Regions from separate parts of the Homo sapiens genome. Here all the other regions are linked to region 2. The links come from fine-mapping of genetic effects on gene expression. A gene starts in region 2. Each other region holds a variant in brackets. All regions are shown on one strand. Distances are between the middles of the regions.

Region 1 (5,724 bases), 470 kb after region 2:
TCCTCATTGAACCTCCCGAATCGTATGCCCTGTGTGGGCAAGGACCGTGTTCACCCTGGCTTCCCCAGGAGGGAAACACCTTTCATGGAGGTTCTCTTTCCTCAAGCCACTTGTGGCGTTTGTCCTGCTCTGGACCTGCCCTGAGATGAGATGTGGGAGGAGGTACAGTCTTCTTCCCAGTCAGGTCTCTGAGATGCCTTCCACTGAGTCCCCATCAAATGAAAGAATTTCATCACTTCCTCTGCCCCATCTAGTTGTGCAGGAATGTCTGCTCTGATTGCTGCTGCAAAGAAAAGATTCCACTTTAGTGAAAGGCCTCAGTGCTGCCTCAAACGTTAAATGTTGGGCTTCTTATAAAATTCTATTTCTGTCCTCTCCAGGTTTCTAGACAGAGACCTAGAAAAAGGCCCTAAGCAGATACAGTGGTGGGAGCCCCATGATCCTCAGTTCAGTTCACGGCCAACCTGGGTGCCCAGCAGCTTCATCCCTGAGATCTGGGTTTATCCAGCAATGAAGCCTCTAGGGAACAGCCAGCACCTGCTGGAGGGCTCTGATCCACCACACAGCTGTGAGAGTGGCCTGGCCCCATAAGAGAAGGGGGCTGGGAGCCTCCACACCTGGGTCCCACTGTCGGAGGCAGGCCACCCCCACCCCTCTCTACACTGCTGTTCTCCCCTCATCCCTTCCCCTCTCCTTTCTCCTCACTGACATCCTTTCCCTCTCCTCCCCTTCCCCTTCTTGTTCCTCCTCAGATGACATCAATCAAATAGCTAGTTTTTCTACCCCAAGAATCAAAGGTTCCTCCCCTCCAGAGGCTCTTCCCAGTAACCTAAAGGCAAAAAATTCAGCACAAAATAAATAGCTATTAATTTGTTCCCTTGGTTAGAGAGATGGGGCTATTCATGTCCAGAAGACACTTACCTGTGAAGAATCAGAGGTATTTTAAACAGGCGGGACTTTACCGTTACTGTTCTCCTTATAAGGAGTTACACATTTGCTTGACTGGAGGCTTCTCACATGGCCTTGCTTCCCCCACCCCAACAGCAGGACTGGGAGATAATTAGGGAGGTGTTTATGAGGAACAAGAGTTGAAGAAAAGTCCCTAAATGTCTAGCAAATGTGGATTCACAGGAAGGGCTCTGGTGGAGCTTGGGCCAGACCTCTCCCCAGCACTCCCACCCTGCCCCACTCCAGCTGAAGCAGGCAGAGGGACTCTCTCTGGAAACAGAGGAAGTTTGAGTTTCAGGGCCCCTCACTTGGTCTGGCCCTCCAAGGCCCTGGGAAGATCCCCAGTACTGTGTTCCCATGGTCTTATATTTTTGTAAGATTTGCAAAAAAATACATAGTTTCAACACAGTTGGGTTCAACTGCTGTTTCTTTCCACTACAGCTTCCTTTTCCTCATACTTCTCTGATCAAATGGTATTGGAATAGCTGTGGGCATTTGGGGGATCCAACTAAGGGGAAGCTGAATTGAGAGTACATTTAGTTTAGATTGAATGCGATACATTTGTGTGGGCTGCAGTCACTTCTGTGCATGGCTAAGCCACTGCTGTCCACCCCGGAGTAGGAACAGCTTACAGGAATAATGCACAAGGCTGAATTAAATATAAACGTGTCCTATGGTGCCTGGCATCAGAAGTCTGTGGGTAGTGGAGGAAAAACAAGGTTTGAGATGGACTGAGCCAGACTGGGGACTCTGTTGAAAATTCTTCTAATCATGAGATGTATAAAATGCAGTTTTCATTGATGCCTCATCAAAATGGAAATTCAGGAATATATTCAATGGCAAAGCATGTACACTGATAAGTACACTGTGCATTGCTTATGGGAATTGCATAAAATAAAAATTATCAGAAATCTTGCATTTGCAGGGCATTACCCTGTAGCAGTGAGGCACATAGCAAGCGTGTCTGTGTGTGAGAAAGAGTGCTTTAATGCCTTCCAACTATCAACAATTTTGATCAGTCTTGCTAGAGGAAAGACTGCCTTATCTTTTTATTCTCTAATACAAAATCATTATCATATAAAGAGAGTAGCAAAGTCAGTAGGCAAAAATTCCGGAAGAAAGTTATTTTAGCAGTGTGTCAGACAGCTAATTAATTAAAATGTTTTGTATTTTTCCTGGGCTTTGAGAGGTCTATTGCATTTGCCAGCTTTAAAAACATATGTAATTTTTTTTGTAACTTATCCTTCTGAAGAGTCACTTTCACTCCCAATTTTGTGTTTATATTTTTGTATTATTTTCCTTAAAGAGAGAGCCCCCAAATTGTATATGCCTCAGGCTCCACAGTCTGAATCCTCCCTATGGGGAGTCTCTAGAAAAACGTTCTGTTTACTCTGCCTCAAGAAACCCTGCTCCAGGCTGGGCACACAAATTCCCAGGGCATTTTGGTCAATGGTTGGTTGCAGAGGTACCAGGTCACCTTCTTTCCAGAATGTGTGTTTTTGGGGCTATGGAGGTCTTTTTCCTGATGGCTGCTGTCCTAGGTTCTCAGGGATGCTTACCTTGCCAGGAACGACAGTAGTGAAGAGCTGCTGTTGATGCTTAATTTCTCCAGCATCCTGAGGCCCAGCTGTTCAAGTTCTTATTTTGGTATAAATCTGAGGTTCTTTTGATTCAAGAAGACGTAGGATAGTTTTCTGCCAAATCTTTTCTCAGATTCACATTGTGTTTGGGTTAGGTCATCTGACACACAAGACTGTCTCATTCCTTCTGCAGCAGGGGATTGACCAGTTTTTGGTT[TTGTTTA/A]ACAGAGTTGGCGTGGACCTGGATGAAAATCTGAAGGAGGACCCCTCCTCACAACACCAGGCAAGTCAAAGAAACCAATGCACATTATATAGAGATATGATTGTTCTGTTCCATAGGCTGTTCCATGTTTGTCCAGCATGTGACCAAGGAGCTATTTCTAAACGGAGCTTCCTCTGCTGATAAAACAAATGAGATTACAATAAAATACAAGGGAATTCAGGGTGTTGATAACTTCTAGCATATGAATGCTTAGAACTAGCATGTACTTGCAAGCCTCTCTATGGCAGCAGGAAGTCTGGAAACTTTACAAAGTATATGATGGCTCTTGGAATGAGGCACTTCATAGTTCAAATCCCTACCCAGCAACTTGCTAGCTAGCCAACTCAGTGAAATTTACACAAAGTATGTCCAATGCATGTTGCACAAACAACAAATTGACTTATTTCTCCTGGATAGCTTCTCATTTATCAGGTCTAAGGCCCAAAAAACTGTCTAGGTGATCCATCCTTTGACTTAATTGAGCAACAATTATCTACAGAGACCTGAAAATCCTTTGGGGTAATTGTTTAGAACAATGAGTTCTTCCCTCATATATTAGTTCATTTTCATAATGCTGATGAAGACATACCCAAGACTGGGTAATTTATACAGGAAAAAGGTTTAATGGACTTACAGTTCCACATGGCTGGGGAGGCGTCACAATCAGGGCAGGAGGCAAGGAAGAGCAAGTCACATCTTACATGGATGGTGGCAGTCAAAGAGAGAGCTTGTGCAGGGAAACTGTTTTTAAAACCATCAGATCTAGTGAGACCCATTCACTGTCACAAGAACAGCATGGGAAAGACCCATCCCCATAATTCAACTACCTCCCACCAGGTTCCTCCCACAACACATGGGAATTGTGGGAGTTAGAATTCAAGATGAGGTTTGAGTGGAACACAGCCAAACCATATCACCTCAAGTAGGGGAAATGCATTCTCCAAACTGAATTTGAACCTAACGTCAAAGTAGAATCTATCAATGTCAGTTTTGCACTACCATTTTAAACTCAGTACTTGTCACAAATAAGAAAATGTAGGGAAATTTTACACCTTTTTGCTGAAATTAGAAGTAGGCAGACATAGATATAATAGGAGAATATCATAAATAAGTGATATTGCTTAATGAATTGTGTTATGAGCGTATTTGTATTCTAAGGGAATCCCTCTCTTTTATTTCATGCTTGTTTTTCCAATAACACCATCAATGAGGCACAACTGGTGAGTTTTCCTGGGCAAGACACTGCTTTCCTGGCACACACAGATGTGAAAAAGAAAGGAGCCTGTGCTCTGTGGAAAAGGCTGGGAAATTAAGTTGGTGATGATCCTGGCTCTCATGTACTTTGAGGTTTTTTGTCACATGTGTTCCAAGGCCAGGCAGTTTCCACAGACTCCATTGTCCAGGAAACACACCTAACTGCAGGATGGAGCACAGCAGGGGTGCCCAAAGCACTGGGATTAGAGCCAGCCTGGTGACCTTAGAAAGGAGATCAAAGCCCATCTCCTTACACTGGTGGGCTATAATGAATAGTCAGTAATGTCTGGTGGTGGCTGATTTTTAAAAAGCATTTTCATCTTGTGTAGGTCAAATAATTCATTCTCCTACCTTCAAGAAAACTTTTATCTAAATTTTGTCCTTCTTGTATACCTTTTTCTTTAAAAGAAGAAAAGACACAATTATAAAATTCATCAAATAAAATTCTCTGTCTTCTTCTAACTGCCTAATATTCTACAATCACATATACTGTTATTGGTAAAAATTTCCTACTAGCCTAAATCCTTTCCAATTTAAATGTATTTTATTTTATCTCATTCATGTGACACTTTAAAACAAAGTTCATCATTGTTAAATCAGTAATAACCCTTACCTGAAGATATTATAGCAATTAAAGTTACTTTTTTATTAGAGAAATAGGATAGCATAACATAGAACAGTGAAAATTCTGTGATATTTGGGTCTTGGGCAAGGTGTTTACACCTTTGGGTCTCAGTTTCCCTCTCTATAAAATGTAAATGATAATAACGTCTGCCTCTCCAGGATGTTATTTATGATAATCAAGGGAAATTGGGTTTATGAAAATGACCCAACTTAATTAAGCTAAACCCATCTCATTTTATGGATGATTGGAGGCAGCTTAAACCACCACATATAATAGTAACATATTTTTATAGAAATTTTAAAAATCAGTAAAAAATATTAATAAGAGCAGATAGTCAAAACCAGAGGGGTATAAAGAATCATGGATAAGCAGATCATAAGGCCTTATAGACTTACTGTAGTCAAACCATAAGTAAGCTTTCTGATGGCCAAAGGGGAAATAAAGAAATAATAATTGGTAATATATTAAATTCACATCATTAGAAGGAAAAATAATACCCTCTCCTCAAGTGACACGAAACATCACTATGTTTTTAAAGACATTTCTCACTTGGGGCCTCCTGTAGAGGACACATACAGCACTATCTAAATGTTAAGTAAGTAGCGTTATCATTGACATGGCGCCTCCTGAACTGCTGCTACCTACAAATGATTTCATTTTTAAGAAGTATACTGTAAGTGTTCTTATTCATGATAATGTTCGATTACCAAAGAACTTACGTTTCAGAAAGAGGTTTTCTCCACACATTGGGATAATGCTTATCTTCAGTATCAAGTACAGGAAACAGTGGGCTCTGATGGGAGGTAACAAGCTGCAGTGTCCTCACAGCTGCCACTGAACCTGGACCGTTTTTTGGTACTTCCCAAACTGTCAAGAACCTCTCTGCTCTCATTTTGCCTGGCAACACCTGTCTTATTATCAACATCTCTTGCTCTGTTGGATTATGTAACATAACCCCAATTCTTAGGAGGATTGTATGTTTCCCCTTGATTTGCATTTATTAAACTGGGTTTGCATTAACAAATAGGTTAATCTTTGTAATGGGCAGCCTTAAC
Region 2 (5,689 bases):
CAACAGATTGTGGCCATGTAAGAAGGGCCCAGTGTGCCAGATCTTACAAGTTTTTCTTGCAAAAAGCCATATGATTTTTTAAATGTTAAATATACTGATTTGAATGTGTTGACATCAAACCTAAAACTTTTTAAAAAGACGTGTAAGCCAATCAAAACATTCTATGGGCCATTAATCTTTTGTCAAGTTGCTTCATTGGTTAAAAGAGTGAAACTGGATGTCACGGATCAACCAGAGAATGTTTATTCTACTCAGATGGAATAATTGTGATAAAAGAAAACCAAAGTAATTCAATAATGACAAAAAACAAAAGGACAGGAAGTTTCTGAATTTGTGTTATCTTGTATATCTGACAACTCGACTGAACCTGTGGAGTTGCAAAATCATAAAGGTAGAACCTGCTAGCAAAGCTCCATGAAATGCTTGCAAGCATTAGCTGATAGGTTTCAAAACAGTATGAATATTAGTCATCACAGATATTCCTGCCAAAAAGGGTAGCGTGTCAGAAGAACATCTGCAGCACACATAAATACCCTCTGCTAAGTTAAACTCAGAGAGGAAATAAGCTTCCAAAGTTGCACAAAGCAAAGATGCTGAAACAGCAGAGCTTTGTATTAAGGGGTTGATAGACTTGCTCTCATGGTGAAACTGTTTGTTGAGGAGGTAGTTAGCTCCCAATAATATTACATGCTTGACCTTTAGCTTTTAGTGACAAAAATTGTTTCAGGACGCATTTGGGCTCAGCCTACTCAATAAGAAATCACATTGTATAAATTGAGCATTAATTGTGTCAAAATGGGGATCATAAGTGATTAATACTCCCAAATTACAATGATATGGTAAAATGAAAAAAAAAATCAGCTAACCCCAGGATATACCCAAATGTGTTATAGGATCAAGTGTTAAAAGCAAGCAGGTCATAATATTTGCTAAGAAAAAAGAAAGAAAAGGAAAAAAAAGCTGCAGAACCCATGGTATTATCTTGAACTATTTTAAAGTAGAAAAATATGAAATCAGACAGGAGCAACCTGCCACATGGAAGATGATCTGAAGAATCATCACTCTTATGATCAGAATCCTGTGAATACAGAGCTTTCATTTCTGGTGGCAGAACCATTTCTCAGTGAGCAACATTGTTTTGCCATAGGACAGAGGAGGTTGTGATCTATTGCAGATTTCTGTGGGTCCTGGATGCCGAGACCAGGAACCCTACAAAGAGAAATCCATGCATGTGGCGTTGCTGAGGATGGCTGCGTGAGTTTCTCTTTCGAAGTAATGTGTTTTGTTTTTTTTCTTTTTTGTCTCAACGTATCCAAACAGTACAGTTGTAGAGATGGGGATGGAATTTTATTTGTCTTTTGCTTTCATTGTTTTCTCTTGTTAAAAGAAAAACAATTGATTTAGAGTTTAAAGGCTGCTCTGCAACTATCAATTATATAAAGCCAAATAGAGTCATATACTAAATCCTTTCTTGCTTCTCAACTAAAAAAAAAAAAAAAAAATCCTGTGAAATCACTTTAGGTTTGCTTAACCAATGTACAGTCATGATTTGAGAGCATAAGAAACCCTATAAGAAACCCTATGCCTTAAGTGAATCCCATTGTGAGATACTTGAGCTATGAGGCGGAAGTTTCAGGCTAAGCAGTGTAATATCTTTTCAGGAGGCTAATATGCTGATCCATTTAGAGCACAGAGGCTGATTGATAACTGTGCTATCAATCCCCATCACTTTGGCAGGTCTTGGTTAGAGAGGAAAGATCTTGCATTTAGGTGAAGTTGAGTCAGGAATTGGCTTTTTGAACTTAGAAAACGTTGCTAGTGTAAGGCTACCTTTTTTATTATTAATCTACAGTTCATATTTATGCAGCTTAAGAAGACTTATTTGGAATAATAAGACCGTGATTCAAGATCTTAGCATCATTGCTTGCAGATTTGTCCAGTATGAAAGATATTTTCATGAGATGAATCACTTAAAGACATTAAGAGTCAGTGATGAAACCACACACTCTCGAGTTTGAAAAGAGACAGGGCTGCTTTAAGAGAGAAACAGGAAGTTGTAACTAGAAGCCATCTGAATACTAAGCCAGGGCAGAATGCTTGTGAAGTAGCAACTAAAGTGGCAGTGTTTCTTCTGAAATTCTCAGGCAGTCAGACTGTCTTAGGCAAATCTTGATAAAATAGCCTTTATCCAGGTTTTTATCTAAGGAATCCCAAGAAGACTGGGGAATGGAGAGACAGTCAAGGGTTATGTCAGAAAAGGATGAGTATCAGTTTCAACATCAGGGAGCGGTGGAGCTGCTTGTCTTCAATTTTTTGCTCATCCTTACCATTTTGACAATCTGGTTATTTAAAAATCATCGATTCCGCTTCTTGCATGAAACTGGAGGAGCAATGGTGTATGGTGAGTGCATAAATTGTGAGATTGATGTGAAACTTGTTGCTTGAGCGTAATTAGAGACTTGTGCTCAGATAGCAAAGTACCGAAACTGGAGAAAATGTGCTGATTGAAATGTCATTAGTTTGATGAAAGGTGCTGCAGCGTAACGAATGCTAATCTCTTTACAGACAAGCCGCCGAAATTTGCCATGTCACGAGAGCAAATGTCACAGTCATGTTCTCACACGGCACATAATGCAAGTCTGTTGACAGATGCGGGTCCATTGTCATGTGGGGAGTCGAGGGCGAGCTGTTTGTTTTTGTAATGATGTTGGGAAGTGATGGCTCTGCAGTCACAAAGAGCAGCCTTCTCTCACTGGCTGCACCGATGAACATTACGAAGTTCTAGAAAAAACATCACTTCAAAATGCCTGGAGTAATTCCTCTTATATCAACTAATTTCAAGAAGAAAACTTGCAGAAACTAACCCCACCCCTCTTAAGAGAATATTGTGTCCAAGTCCTTTTTATTTATACGAACAGTGTCTTATTTTCTTATAATAAAAAGTTATAAATAAACGAGAGTTTCTTTATGCAGTACTTTTTACTTCTTAGCCTGATTTCAGATGTTCTAATTTATAATGATCATTGCTAGTGTTATTTGTTATGTATCTCCTATTTATGTATTGGAGGCCAAGGTGTGGAAAAATATTTAACACCTGCAGTATTGCTCTTTCTGGGCAACTTACCGTATCATTCCTTTCAGAAAGTTTAATAAAGTCTGACAGAGATTATCTGTCTGTACTCTCATCTTTTAAAGTAAAATGAAAGACACCAGTTTTTACTGGTGTTACTGATGAAATAGTTTACTTCACTGCTCTTATCTCAGCCTGATAATGGATAGGAAGTTTGAACACAATGGCAACAGGCAAGGCATTGCTATAATTTATAGCAAATAACATACTTTTATATTTGGGGTTTCCTCATTTTGGAAATCCTGAAACCCTTTCCTAAGCCTGAGATTCAGGGTACAGATCAATGCACATTGTATATGCTAATCCTGTGGTGTCCTGATATTAACAGTGTATAGTTGTGATTTCAGAACCTAAGGAATCCTAAGCCTTAAGTGGATCCCACTGTGAGATACTTGAGCTATAAGGCGGAAGTTTCAGGCTCAGGAGGCTGATATGCTGATCCATTCAGAGCACAGAGTTAAATTCCTTGGTACTGAGGGTCTTTTAAAAATTTTTTGCTTGGGAGTGGGGAGGGACAGCATTAGGAGATATACCTGATGTTAAATGACGAGTTAATGGGTGCAGCACACCAACATGGCACATGTATACATATGTAACTAACCTGCACGTTGTGCACATGTACCCTAAAACTTAAAGTATAATTAAAAAAAGAAAAAAAACATAACCCAAATGCAAAAAAAAAAAAAACCTTTTTTTGCTGTATTGTTTTATTTATTTTTTAAAATTTAGTGGAGACAGGGTCTCACTATGTTGCCCAGGCTGGTCTCCAACTCCTGGCCTAAAGAGATCCACTGACCTTGGCCTCCCAAAATGCTGGCATTACGGGCATGAGCCACCATTCCCAGCCAGTATTGAGGGTCTTAACGGGCACAAGAAAACTCTCATTTAAGAGAAAAAAAAAATCACAATCAGGTGGGAGAGAAATAGCCAAACAAAAAGGAGGGGATGCCATCAGATGTGAAGCCCTAGGTTCCTGTCATTTGCCTATCTCCATCATGAACAGAATTTTTCTCTTGACTTGACTAATAAGTAATCTGCAAGGATATGGAATAGAATCTGAGAAGCCAGAAACAATGTAATTCTTGATATCATATTAAAGGGACATATGTGCTTTAGCAAAACTACCCAGATTTAATAGATTGCCAACCTTTATTAGAGGGAAAGATTTCTTCACATCCCTGAATTTGATTGAACTATGACTCATTTACCAAGTTCAATGGTGGGGATATTGTTTTCGTAAAAGTTTTGATAACCTACTAAAATTCAGTCATGTTTTGCATTCACAATACATACAGTAACTCTTACTTTTGAATCTGAAAAATTCCAGGTTACCTTTAATCCTGCAAAACTCTCTGAAATATTTTTAAATTGTGCTTGAAATAATAAAATAGTAGTTCATTGACCACTGCTATTGAGGTAGCATTTCTCTAAATTGCTGTTCTTAAGGCAGATAAAGGCTTAAAGTTTATGAGTGGAATTAAGTTGGGTTCTCTGATTCCTATTCTTCTTTCATGAGTTTTTTAAAGTAAAAGTTATTGAAAGCAAATTCTGAACCAGTGCAATGTAAAAGGATTATAAAAATTATGGAGATATGCATATATATGTATTCTCTTACTAGAAATTTTGAGTATCTTTCAGTTATCTTGAACTATATAGATCAATGAAAAGACATATTTTAGTGATGTTTAACTTTTTCTTGGCATAGAATCATAATTGTTAGGATGTCAAAGAATTTTAGAGGTTATCTTCTCTATCCCCTTTATTTTAGAGAGGCAGAAGCTGAATCCCAGAGAAGTGAAGGGACTTTCCAAAACTGAATAGCCACTCATGACTGGTCCATGTGCTTTCACTCATCTGCATGTCTTACTAAGGTTCACGTTCACCTGAAAGAACTCTCCCTGTGTTTTCTGAAAGTACTCCATATGGGTGGCATTCATGACTTGTCACATTTCTTCTTCAGGGATGTCCTAAATGTTATATCTTAAATGCTTATTAGGAACTTTCTATCAGTAATGTAATAAAATAGTCTGAAACTACACCAGAGGAACATGATGGGATACTGTAGTAAACACTTTTTAATGATAGGGGAAAGGAGATGCCAAGTGAATTAATTGTCCAACAGCTATAAATGAACTTGGAATCATAGATGGGGAAGGAGCCTTAAAGATCATAAATCCAGCATTCTCATTTTGCAGACAAACAAATGAAGACTTAGAGAGATAAAAGTCGTGTAATTAGTTAGCTGTTGAGGTGGGATTCAACCTCCATCTCTTTAATAAGAGATGCTAAGATATTTAAAAATAAGTAAATTATTGCAATAATTTTCCTGGAGAAAGGATGTGTCTGTGGGATCTAGATGCATCCTCATATGGTTAAGCTTTCAGGATTAGCCAGATTCTCTTTTCCAGGAGGTCTAAAAGAGTGAATTTTCAGCATCCCACATTGTACTATCCCCCTTTCCATTAAAGGATTAAACTCTTAGCTTTTGCAAGAGCAGGGGGGCATGGTGATAACTAATGGGGAAGAAAAGAAACAAAACTATGTTTAAAACTTAAGCTT
Region 3 (5,724 bases), 23 kb after region 2:
CAGGCAGAAGGAGATGACCAGTGCTAGAAAGAGTGCAGGGAGGTCAGAGTTGAGGAAGAAGTCCGGCTCAGCAGAGTCACAGAAGCCATTAGTGTGGCCCCACTGGGTCCTTTTCCTTTGTGATATATTTTAAAGGGAGTATTTTGCCTTTGTTTCTAAAAGTTACATGATTTGAAAATGGGTTTTACTCTTAGAAAAATATAGTTTAGTGTCTTGGATGAAATTTCTGACTTCAGGATTTGGAGAGGCTGGAATGAATTCTTGTGCTATGTAATGGCCTCTTAGAAGATTTTATAAGAGCACGTGTATTTCTGGGATGGTTAGGCATTGACGTGCTTAGAGACAGAACTGGTTTGATGGCTCTGTGAGTTCCTTCCAATAAGAAGGTATAAAACTGGAAAATATGAGAGCTGTTGGCATTTATATAAACAGCAATGTACTGTGATTTTATGCCATGTTTAAACATATAAAAATTTCAGGAAACACCATATGCCAAACTTGTTTTGTTCATGCTCAACACAGATAAAAGTGTAGAAAAGAAAAAAAATATTTTCACTTAAAGATTGGTGAAAACAGTATTCTTCTATATGTTATGAGCAGACGATGAACTCAAAACAACCTTCTAAGAGGATAAAACAAGACCATGTTGCTCTGTATCTGTTCAGCCAATGTTTCCACCACCATTTGTCAAATTGTTCTGTGTATACAAGATACCTGCAACTGGTTGTAACCCTTTAGGGCCTACATCCTATTACATGATAGCTTTGCAAACATAAGTTTGTTATGTAATATTTAGGAATACCAAAATGTCTACCAAATATTTCTGCATTTTATGTCAATAGGAAGTTCAAAACCTGTTTTGAAGAGAAGATGATAAAATAACTTTCTGTTTCATACTTTCATTCATTTATTCTTTCAACACAAATGAACTGAGTCCTATCAATTTCAATTCTGAAACAAGATGTGGTCCCAAGGAGTTTAGTAGTAAATCAGAGAAAAACATAGCATATGAATAAATGAATGAGTAACACTAAAGGCACGTATCAAAAAAGTGGGACAAGAACCACAGGCGTCCAGAACAGGACAGTATGGTCTCTTATTAAGGGTAATAGGAAAGATTTCTAAGAAGGGCAGTTGATTGACTCTGATGATAGGGGTATGTGTGGTGTTGGGGGGACAGAGGGGAGGAATTCCATGCAGAAGGAAAAGCATGATATGGATGTGGGAAAAGGGGTAGACAATATTCCAGGAAAGAAAAAGCATTTCCAATTTGTTGAAGTGTGGAAGACCAGTGAAACCTAGAGCTGAAAATGAAGGCAGACCTTGATTTGGAAGCCCCTGAATGCCAGGCTGAGTAATGCCCTCTCTATTTGTAGTCAGAGGAACAGTGTAATGTTGACAAAAGCAAAAGGATAGTGTGCCTGCTGTGTACAGGGTAGAGAGTGAAAGCAAAGAGACAGATGAAGCCTAGACTTGGATGGTAACCAAGAGGTAGATGCAAGAAAAACGAGGAAGGAAGGCTGTGAAGGGCTTGGCCCAACTAGTCAGAAGAAGAGGAAAAACAGCTTCCTCTGCTACCCTGGTCATGTGGGTTCACAGAAGGGTGGTGAGGCAAAAATGTGGAAGTTAAAAGTTAGAAGAAGGAGTTGATTTGTAGGAGAAAATCACAAATCACAAATATGGTGGTTTTTTTTTTTTTTCAAGACAGAGTCTTGCTCTGTCGCCCAGGCTGCAGTACAGTGGTACGATTCCAGCTCACTGCAACCTCTGCCTCCTAGGTTCAAGCAATTCTCATGCCCTAGCCTCCCAAGTAGCTGGGACTACAGGTATGTGCCACCACGCCCAGCTACTTTTCGTATTCTTAGTAGAGATGGAGTTTCACCATGTTGTCCAGGCTGGTCTCAAACTCCTGACCTCCAGTGATCTGCCTGCCTCAGCCTCCCAAAATGCTGGGATTATAGGTGTGAGCCACAGTGCCTGGTCACAAATGTGGTTTTAAACTGATGAATGAATGAATCAATCTATTTCATCATTAATTTATTCATCATTGATTTAGCATGTTAGGTGTTTATAATACTCAGTTGGAAGGGTCAGTGGGCCATTTGGCTGGAAAAGTCTTGCAGATACAGTAGATTATCAAAAAGTTGTCAGTACAGTTAAATTTACACTTCCTATCACTCATAGATAAGTTGACTGTAATGCAAAAAGTCAAAGGAAACTACCCAGCGAAAATTTTGCCAAGTCTTCACTTCCTGTGTGACAAGTAGACACTATCGCTTGGTAAAGGAAGTTACTTTGAAGTGAGTTACACTGCTGAGCAATCTGTCCTTTCTATTCTTTCAATAAAGAGAATTGCCAAGCTGCAAATAGGTCATCAGAGCTCGTTTCAATTGTGTTGATAATACTACATATTTTAGAGCTACTTTAAGGAAGCCCTTATAGAAACAACTAACCATAAGACTTTTAAAAGTAATTTTGTTTTTGAAGAATTAAATAATTAATTTTTTGTAGCTTTAAATAAATAAATCAAAGTCCTTTTTTTTTTCTCACCATCCAACTTTTCCTAATGGTGATTTTGATTTTTCATCATTCAGAGTTTTAATTCTCATATATTTATTTGTAAACTACATTTGCATTTCTAGTCTTTTCCTTTACTTGAGCTTCAATAAGGCCAGGGGCAAACCTCTTCCTGTAACAGGAAT[C/T]GCTTGAGCAGAGAGAGTCATTGGGCCATGAGATAAATATGTACAGTTAACACTAGGACACTCTTGGGGAGGATAAACAAAGGACTGAAAAGAAATTTTTTAAGAAACTTTTCTAGGCACACTGAGAGAAAGCAAGCTTCATGATGATAAATCAGCATTGGGGGTGTGGAGAAGCATTTGTAGGATACTATCAATTATTCTTCCTTTCAACAGAGAATAGGGCTCCATGATTTGTGTTTCTCTATCATGACAATTCTTGGCTCCTACCACGTGAGATGGTTCCAGAGAATGTCAAGTTTGGCAGTAAATGGGATGAGGCTGTTTGGGCGGATGCAGCTCCTTTCATCCTAAACCTTATTTAAGAGATCTGCTGTTACTAAAGAAACTAAAAATTTGTTTGCTTTAGCTGTTTTCTTCCACTTTCATTCAACATTTTTGGCAAAAAGTTGGCCTGTGAGATGACCTCAGAAATGTATTTAAAGACTCTAAATATTCCATTTGGTTTTGATTTCATCATTGAACAACACAGATTTTCTTCATTCCTTCAGTCATTCAAAAAATATTTATTTATTGAGCACTTGCCACTTGCCAGGCATTGGTTTTAGGTGCTGCAAGTATGGTAGTGAACAAAACGAAGTCCTTGTGCTCATGGGGTTTAACTTCCTGGAGGGGGATAGACAAAGGAAGTTCAGCACAAGCATTTGTAATCCAGAGCCAAGTGGAGGCAAGTGCTATGAAGAGAAGTTAGCAAAATTAGAAGGTTCGGAGTGAAGGGTCTTTAGATATGTCCTGCAGAGAAGGCCTCACTGAGGTGAATCGGAGCTGAGTCCTAATGAAGTGGGGACTATGCCATGCAGAAATCTGGAAGAAGGGAATTTCAAAGCAGAGGACAAAACTAAGTAACAGTAAGTGCCTGCTGCTTTCTGGAAGGCAGTTTTTTGTTTTTGGTTTTTTGGTTTTTTTTTCCTGCCAGCTCTTTGCCATTTTATTCATGAATATTCTAAGATCATTTTGTATATATAAAAAGTTTTAGAAAAAAATATTTTTTAAAGTAGAGAAGGGCAGAGAAGAAGAGAGAGATCATCTTGGAATAGGGATTGGAAATCTAGAAACACAGGGACACTCTGCTCCTAGGGGCAGGAAGTGCCATGAGGTACCATGGCCACTTTTGAAAGCTTGCCTTCAGAATGCACCACGCAAATACTAACTTCCAAACTTTTGATTATGCACCCACCAGTGAAATGCGTTTGAGAATATATCCATATACCTTTTTATTTACAAGTTGGATGTAAGGACTACTGTATCAATATACTCTATACATTATAAAGCAGATATCAAACTAGAATTTTTTAAAAGGATGAGATAAAATGAAATATAAACAGAAGTTCCAGTATGTCCTTTGCACACCAAAATCATCCTTTCCATTCTCTAAGATATGGACACCTCATCTTAGAGAACAATATAATATCTTATATTTTATTAAAATTTTATTTTTATTGTAACTATTAAATATTTTTGATAACATCTACCTTTAAAAATTCCACTCTTTTCTGAAATCTTTTTTAATGTTTAATTTTTAATTTATTTTTTAATTTTTTTATTTTTTATTTTTGTGGGTACATAGTAGGTATATATATTTATGGGTTACATAAAATGTTTTGATACAGGCATGCAATGTGAAATAATCACATAATGGAGAATGGGAAAGCCATCCCCTCAAGCATTTATCCTTTGTGTCTTTTCTGAAATCTTAAATTCTGTATTCTGAGTCTTGCGGCACCAGTATGTGCATGGGCTGTTGGCCTGACATGAGGATGTTCTTAGGGGCTGATTACCTCTGGGAGAACACTCATCTTCACCCCGAATGTCCCCATGCTACTCTACTACAGTATCCAGGTCTTTTGTCTCATAGGTCTGCAGTCTCATAGCTCCACCTGACATTCCCCCACTGCATTTTAGCTGAGTTGTAAGTTAATATTTACTTCTATAATGTTTTGATTCATGTCTGTCTTCTCAATGTCACTTGTCTACAGTCTCACTAGACTGTGGGCTCCAGGAGGGCAGAGACTAGGTCTGTTTAGTGGTCACATTCATTCCATGATTCCTGGCAAATGGTGAATTCTCTGTGGATCTTGATAAATGAATGGATGATGTAACCAGGTATCTATCATTCTCTGCTTGTCAGTAGCTCCTTTTTACTGCTACTCTGTCCTGTCTTAATTGCTGGCTATTTTGTAACCAAGCATCTAACCTCAGATTTCTCCTCAGGGTGAATTATGTGTGCTCTGTGATGGTTGTTTACTACTCAGAGGACTGAACTGCTAAAAAGTCTGCTCTCCAAATAATTGCGTAGGGATGGAAGGAGGCAGAGAGAGATTCAAGGCAGGGAGAGAGGGAGAGAAAAGGAGCCTGAGCAAAGAACAGAAAACAGAGAGAGAGTGGAAGGGAAAAAAGAGATTTCCCATTGTACTTTAAGTCTGAGTAAATAATATTTACAATGGATCTTTCAATTCTTTTCCCCATTGCTTTGTTCCTTCTAAAATATTAAACTGTGGCAAGAGTGCACATTTATCATTGCTGGTCTCCAGCGAGTAGTTATTTAAAGTTCCACCCAGCTGCATTTCCCTGTTCTCTCCTGAGGTCATTAGGAAGCTCCTGTTTAGTAACAGATACAGCCTGAGGTAGGCTCCACAGACAGCTGGGCACAGGAGGGGAGGGGACCTAACGAAGCTGCACATTCAGCTGGTTGTCTCTTGTTGCCTTTTAAGCTTGCCTGGAGTTATGGAGTCTCCCAGCTGCTCCCTTCACATCCATTTCTGATCACAGGACTAAGTGGGCTCTGATTTATCGAGTTCTGCCCCAGGTTGGGGTGTGTGGAGCAAGAATGTCCTGCAAATTCGAGTGGTCTTCATCTTTCTTTCTAACTGTCATATGATGGGTTCCCAGAAAAGTGGTGGACCCTCAGGTAGTGTGTAGTGAGCAGGAAGTTCATCAAGTGCCCTTGAGATTGACACCTTTCAGT
Region 4 (5,724 bases), 100 kb before region 2:
CTTTACAAGAGTATTTCGCTTATCAACACAGGAGACTTTTGAGATAGATTGCCTTTTTTACAAATAAGGAAGTTGAGGTTCAGGGCAGTTAAACAATTTGTCTTCAATCACACAACAGTTTAGTGGCAAATTTGAAAATTAAAGTTCTGGTTTTTTCTACTATAACTCAGCTTTTCAACAATTTTACAAACTGAATATCCTCTTGTGACTATTATAATAGAATGTACTTGATGTATTAAAATTCTCCGTGGAAGCTATCAAAAATAATGCTAACTTTATTAACTAATTTTTAAAATACAATAGCATAAAAATAAATTTTTATTCATAATTTACTTACTAAAAATACTTTTGGATTGTTTGAAAATTAAAATACAGGATAAAACCATTTTAAGAGAAAACACAGTTATAGCTGAAAATGATCATTTCTTTGTCATAAGAAGACCTTTCTCATTATAGTCTAAAAAGACCTCATGCATCATCCAATATACTTTTCATGGTTGCTTTACACGTGCCTGCCAAGAACATTTTAAAATTTGTAGGGGGCAAGTTTTCTCTTAGGTACATTTTCTGTAGTAAATAATTGTAATTACATTATCAAGTGCTAGTATAATTTAGAGGTCACAGGTATAACTCCTAGAGAAGGTAATTCACTGTGAAAGGAAATGACTGCCCCACTTTGTTTAAAAACAGTCCAATATGTTAAACTTGAGGGGAAAAAAACCACTCCTCTCAGTATAGCTGATGATCTAAATTTATTTCTGCAGCCCTGACTGCTTCTGTGAACTCCAGATGTACATATCTGCCAAATGGTCCCGCCCACTAGGATGATCATTAGGCACCTTTAATTTAACATAGCCCTACTAGAACTTATGTGTCAGCTTGTTATCTCCATCTTGGAAGATGGATAAAATTAAAACATTCTTATTTCTTCTTTCCTTCACATCCACATTCAGCCTATCAGCAAGTACTGCTGGACACTTTCAAAGTCTATTCTAAGTCCAGACACTTGTTGAAACCTTGACTGCTACCACCCTAATCCAAGTTACTGTTATCTCTCACCTGACCTATTGAAGTTGTCTCCTAAATGCCTGTCTGCTTTTACCCAACCATTACCTATCACTCAGTCTCTAGATGGAAGCCAGAGTGATATATTTATTATGTAAATTGGAACATACCTGTTACTCCACAGCCCAAAACTTTTGAATGGTTTCCCATCACATCTGGAATATGGCTCAATGTCCTTACCTTGGCCTAAGGGCCTACATACCATTCTGGCTTCATCTTATACTGCTGTCCCCTTAACACTGGCCTAGTCATGCTGTCCTTCCAACTCTTACTAGGAACACACCAAGCTGGCTCAAGTCTCAAGGCTTTTCCACTTGCTATTTCTTTCACCTGTCTCCAGAGATGTTTGCATGATTCAGTTCTTCACCTCATTCATGTATCTGTCAAATGTCCTCTATGAAGCTTTTTTCTGATTGCTTTATTTAAATTGCAATGCTCTCCACCACTCAATTCCTTTTTACCCCTTTATTCATTTTTTTCCTTGCAAGTATTTATTTTCTGTTTTCATATGAATTGTCCCTCCTACAGGAATAGGAGCTTTGTCTTTTTCATGGCTCCATCCCCAGTGCCTGGTACAGTGCCCAGTGCTTAGATAGAAATAAACATTTTTGAGTAAATGGATGAATGCATTTATTTAAATAATTCGTAGTTCTAAAATTGAGGCAAAATGGTTTAATTTTAAAATGTGTAATGCTAGCTTAATAAAGAGTTATTTTGCTTTGGAAAAATTTCAATCAGCTAAAATTGTAAGCCAATTTGCTTCTCTGAAAAGAGTCGATCTGCTCAGTGAAACAAGCATTAATTGGCACATCTGGTGGCAGGTGCAGGCATTGCAAAGATAAGGCCTAAGAAAACCTAATTTGTCTTCATCTACAGCAAGCAGCTTGCAACTGGGGCCACACATTATAATCACCTGGGGAGGTTATAAAATTCTGATGAGTAGGCAAAACTCGAGAACAAGTAATTCAGAATATTTGAGGGATCCAATTGGGACATCATTAACTTTTTTTTTTTTAAGTTTCCCAACTGATTACAATAGATTGAGAATACTGAGATTACAAGATTGAGAATCACGGATGTGTTCTATGAGGTATGGGGTTTGTGGAAAACTATTCCTGATGCTAACACCAGTATGGAAGGTATTCAAATACCTGTTAAATGAATTAATGAGTGAGTGAATGAATGTAAAAAGTGTTGATGGCCAGTTGACCTCATGAGCACTATCTGAAAAACCATTCAAAGACATTAGCCTACTGATGCGGTTGCCAGATTTAGCAAATAAAAATACAAGACTCCCAGGTAAATCTGGAATTTAAATAAACAAGGAACTCTCTTTAGTAACATATATCTCAAATATTTCATGGGACATACTTATACTAAAAACGATACTATTTGTCTGTGATTAAAATTTGACTGGACATTCTGTATTTTATCTGGCAACTCCACATACTGATGAGGGAACAGTTAAGGTTCTCTTCCAAAAATCAGCATGTTATTATAAATTTTAAACAATATACTGAGGTGTATTGTAGAAGTATTAATTTATTCTCTTCTATCTTCAACAATACAAAGCTACTATAAAAACAGTCTATGCTTAGGAATAAATTTAATTTTGCCTTTTAAAGCTTTTAATGTAGTAATCATAAAAATGAGTTCTTTGTGCATTATAAATTTTCCAGATTAATTTGGAATTTAAATTCTTCAGAATCTGGTTTTGAATTGTCAAATCTAACACCCTAGAATGGCAAAAAAAAA[AG/G]AAGGAAAATTCAGTGTTTTTAAGACCTATGAAATCCACTCTCAACATGACCTCTGAATCAGGAACTGCATTATTGATACTATATCTTCAATTCTCATTACGCTCCTAGGCAATGTGAGAAAGACAGGAATCCCTCAGACTATAGAACTTTACCTTAGTTATTTTAGGCTCATTATACTGACCTACTAAAACATTCTCATGGTAATAATGAATAAGATCTGACTGTAATGCTGGAAAAACAAAACTATTGGAACAAATCAGTTGAATAATTAATAATGCAATCAGAAGCCTCAGGATACTGCTTTTTTCTTAAAGGACCCAAAAAGTTTCAATCAATCCTTTGCAAATGCCTGGTAAACATCTATCCACCACCAGGTGGCATGCTCACATGTTCAGAAATTCTCCAATGAGTGGGTGACACAAAGGGTCAATTATGGTACATCATGAGTATAGAAAGAATGGAATCATGAGAATGCAAAACAAAAAAGAAGGACTAGTCCTTAACTATTTGCACTTCTAGCATTTTCTTTCCAGGTTGCAAGGTATGGACTAGTCTTATGCTTCCTGCAGAATTTGCAAAGTGGCTTGCTTAGAATGGGTCAACAAGTATTTGATTTTATTTGAACACTGTATTTTATTGTTAGAAGACATTTTCTTCAAAACTTGTTCAAATGTAATAAAAACCAAAGTTCTTCAGCAGTTTCCCTGTTATATGTAATTTGTTTGCAGAAATTTTAGCAGCCATGCAAATGAACAAAAAATCAGAAGAGAAAAAAATGTCTATTCAAATAGAAATTCTAATCCATCTATTCCATAATATCGACTCTTTGGGTAAAGGCAGTCAGGCAAGCTATATATTTTCTGCATATCACTTGGGCTGACAATCTGCAGTGAGGTTACAAGAACACAGGAACTCAAACTGATTTTTCTGACATTAAGTACATCTGGCATCATGTTCTTTCATAAACATTACTACACCTTACTTTTTCAGCGCTTGAAAATTGACAAGGCCCATAATAGCTTTGGGGTTTGTCAGTTCCCAGCAGCACATACTATTTAAAATGTTTGATGTGAATGCAAACATAACTTTGGAATAAAAAATTTCAAATTTTGTTCCTTGAAGGCTTAGGGAAGTGGATCCAGGGCTGGAGTGTTTAGTTATATTTTGACTTTTAGAAGTTGTCTTCATATCTACTTTGCAATTCAGTACCAAGTTGGATGCTCTCAACTCTAGAGATTATACTTAAAATTATTTGGTTCCCTAAATATGTTTGTCAAATTTCAGACATATACTTCACTGTGGTTTTTAGTGCATTGATTTTTATTTAAGTAATACCTATGGCAATAGCAATAATAATAATACCTACGCCTTGCTGAGGCAGTATAGTAAAAGTTAAAGGCAAAGGCCCTGGGAATTTGTCTTCCTGGATTCTGATCCTAGTTCTGCCTCTTACTAGCTGTGTAACGTTGACAGACTATTTAACCTCTTTAAATCTTAATTTTCTCATTTGTAAACTGGAGTTGATAATAACATCTACCTCCTGGCACTGCACACTATATGAGAAAATATGTACAATTTCCCTTACCCCAGCATGTAGTAGGCACTAGATGATCAGTGGCTGCTCTTTGTAAACTGGAAGTTAACACTTCAACTAACTCATCTGTGAATTAGATATAATAACAGTAAAGTATATGACACTGAGCTTAGTGGCTGGCACATAGTCGATAAATAAGAGCTATTATTTCATTATTCTTTTTCAGGCACTATACATACCACGTCTCCAAGAAAAGTATTATCCAATATTATCTCCATTTTATTCGGTGGAAATTTAGGTTCAGACAAGCTAGAAAGTAGTTGGACCAACAGTCAAGCCTCCAGTTGGGTCCAAAGTCCCAGATCCTTTCAAGATAATCTATTTGGCTCTAATGATATGTTGAACCAAACACCATTCTGAAATTAAGAGAACTGACATTGAAGGACCAAGAAATATGTTTTATTTCAACTTAAGTACTCGGAACACTTCTCATACCACTTGGTTGATACTCTACTATATAATAAATGAAAAATACATTGTTCATTCTGAGTTTTGAGACCTTGTGTAAAACATCACAACCATTTCTTCTATCATTCACATAATTAAAATGCAAAGATTGCGTCACCAAAGAAAGAAAAGAAAAAAGATAATATCAAATTCTTTAAATTTTCCAAAATCTCTGACAGAGTTGTATACTTGTTTGTACCTCTTGGTGCACTTTAAAAGTGCAAGAAAGCTTACATTTTAAATTAGAAATATTTTTTACAAAGATGATACTTGAAATTATTATTTCTACCTCTAAGGCTTTGTTTTTAGGTAAAGTGTTTACAAAATGCACCTGCCTAAATATAAATGATTTAATCAGGTGGTGTTCTATATGTCTGGGGAAACATCCAGATGTTTGTGGTCTTAAAAAAAGATATTTTCAAAACAAACACTTTATTTTGCCACTTTTCAGCTGCATGTGCTAGCCTCACTATTACAAACTTAACAATAATTTGATTTTTAGTGTAAAATAATCTGAATTGTTTCACAGAGCAAATCCAGTTCAAAAAATATAAACTTTAAGTCACTTTGAAAACATTCTGGTAAATTAGAATGGAACAAAAACGAAAGTCTGTCTAAACCAGGGGTTAGCAATCATTTTCTGTCAAAGACAAGACAGCAAATATTTTAGACTTTGTAGGACACATGGTCATTCTTGAAACTACTCAACTTTACCTTTGTAGAGTAGACAGGTGTGGCTGGATGCCAATAAAACTTCATTTACAAAAGCAAGCAGCCAGTCATAAGCTGCATTTGTTTGGCCCAGTATAAAATACTGAAGATACCAGACACACTTTATTTTGGGTAATAAGTAAACATTTG

Alleles and levels. Positions count from the first base shown, and alleles are read on the strand shown. Sizes are in standard deviations (SD) of each study's normalised expression. Not every link is listed here.
As copies of G replace AG in region 4, the expression in monocytes after LPS of the gene that starts at base 2,081 in region 2 goes down (moderate effect, 0.69 SD a copy in Fairfax 2014).

The links. PIP is the estimated chance that this variant, and not a neighbour inherited with it, causes the effect. A credible set is the group of variants that fine-mapping cannot tell apart.
Region 1: its variant is the best candidate, but not a certain one, in a credible set for the expression of SLC9A9 in whole blood (TOPMed, PIP 0.50).
Region 3: its variant is the best candidate, but not a certain one, in a credible set for the expression of SLC9A9 in blood mononuclear cells (TOPMed, PIP 0.84).
Region 4: its variant is the best candidate, but not a certain one, in a credible set for the expression of SLC9A9 in monocytes after LPS (Fairfax 2014, PIP 0.54).

The regions. Positions count from the first base shown.
Region 1 is chr3:143,379,147-143,384,870 of GRCh38, reverse strand. SLC9A9 (solute carrier family 9 member A9) reads left to right here. Exons shown (of 16, transcript NM_173653.4): 13 at 2,757-2,811. Among named protein-coding and RNA genes, the nearest start is that of SLC9A9-AS1, 40 kb to the right of the region's middle. The variant TTGTTTA/A (reference allele first, on the strand shown) is at 2,746.
Region 2 is chr3:143,844,860-143,850,548 of GRCh38, reverse strand. It overlaps SLC9A9 (solute carrier family 9 member A9), which reads left to right and starts at 2,081. Exons shown (of 16, transcript NM_173653.4): 1 at 2,081-2,401. The coding sequence starts at 2,227.
Region 3 is chr3:143,822,236-143,827,959 of GRCh38, reverse strand. The region is part of intron 2 of SLC9A9 (solute carrier family 9 member A9); the gene reads left to right. Among named protein-coding and RNA genes, the nearest start is that of SLC9A9, 23 kb to the left of the region's middle. The variant C/T (reference allele first, on the strand shown) is at 2,703.
Region 4 is chr3:143,949,043-143,954,766 of GRCh38, reverse strand. No RefSeq gene overlaps it. Among named protein-coding and RNA genes, the nearest start is that of DIPK2A, 20 kb to the left of the region's middle. The variant AG/G (reference allele first, on the strand shown) is at 2,821.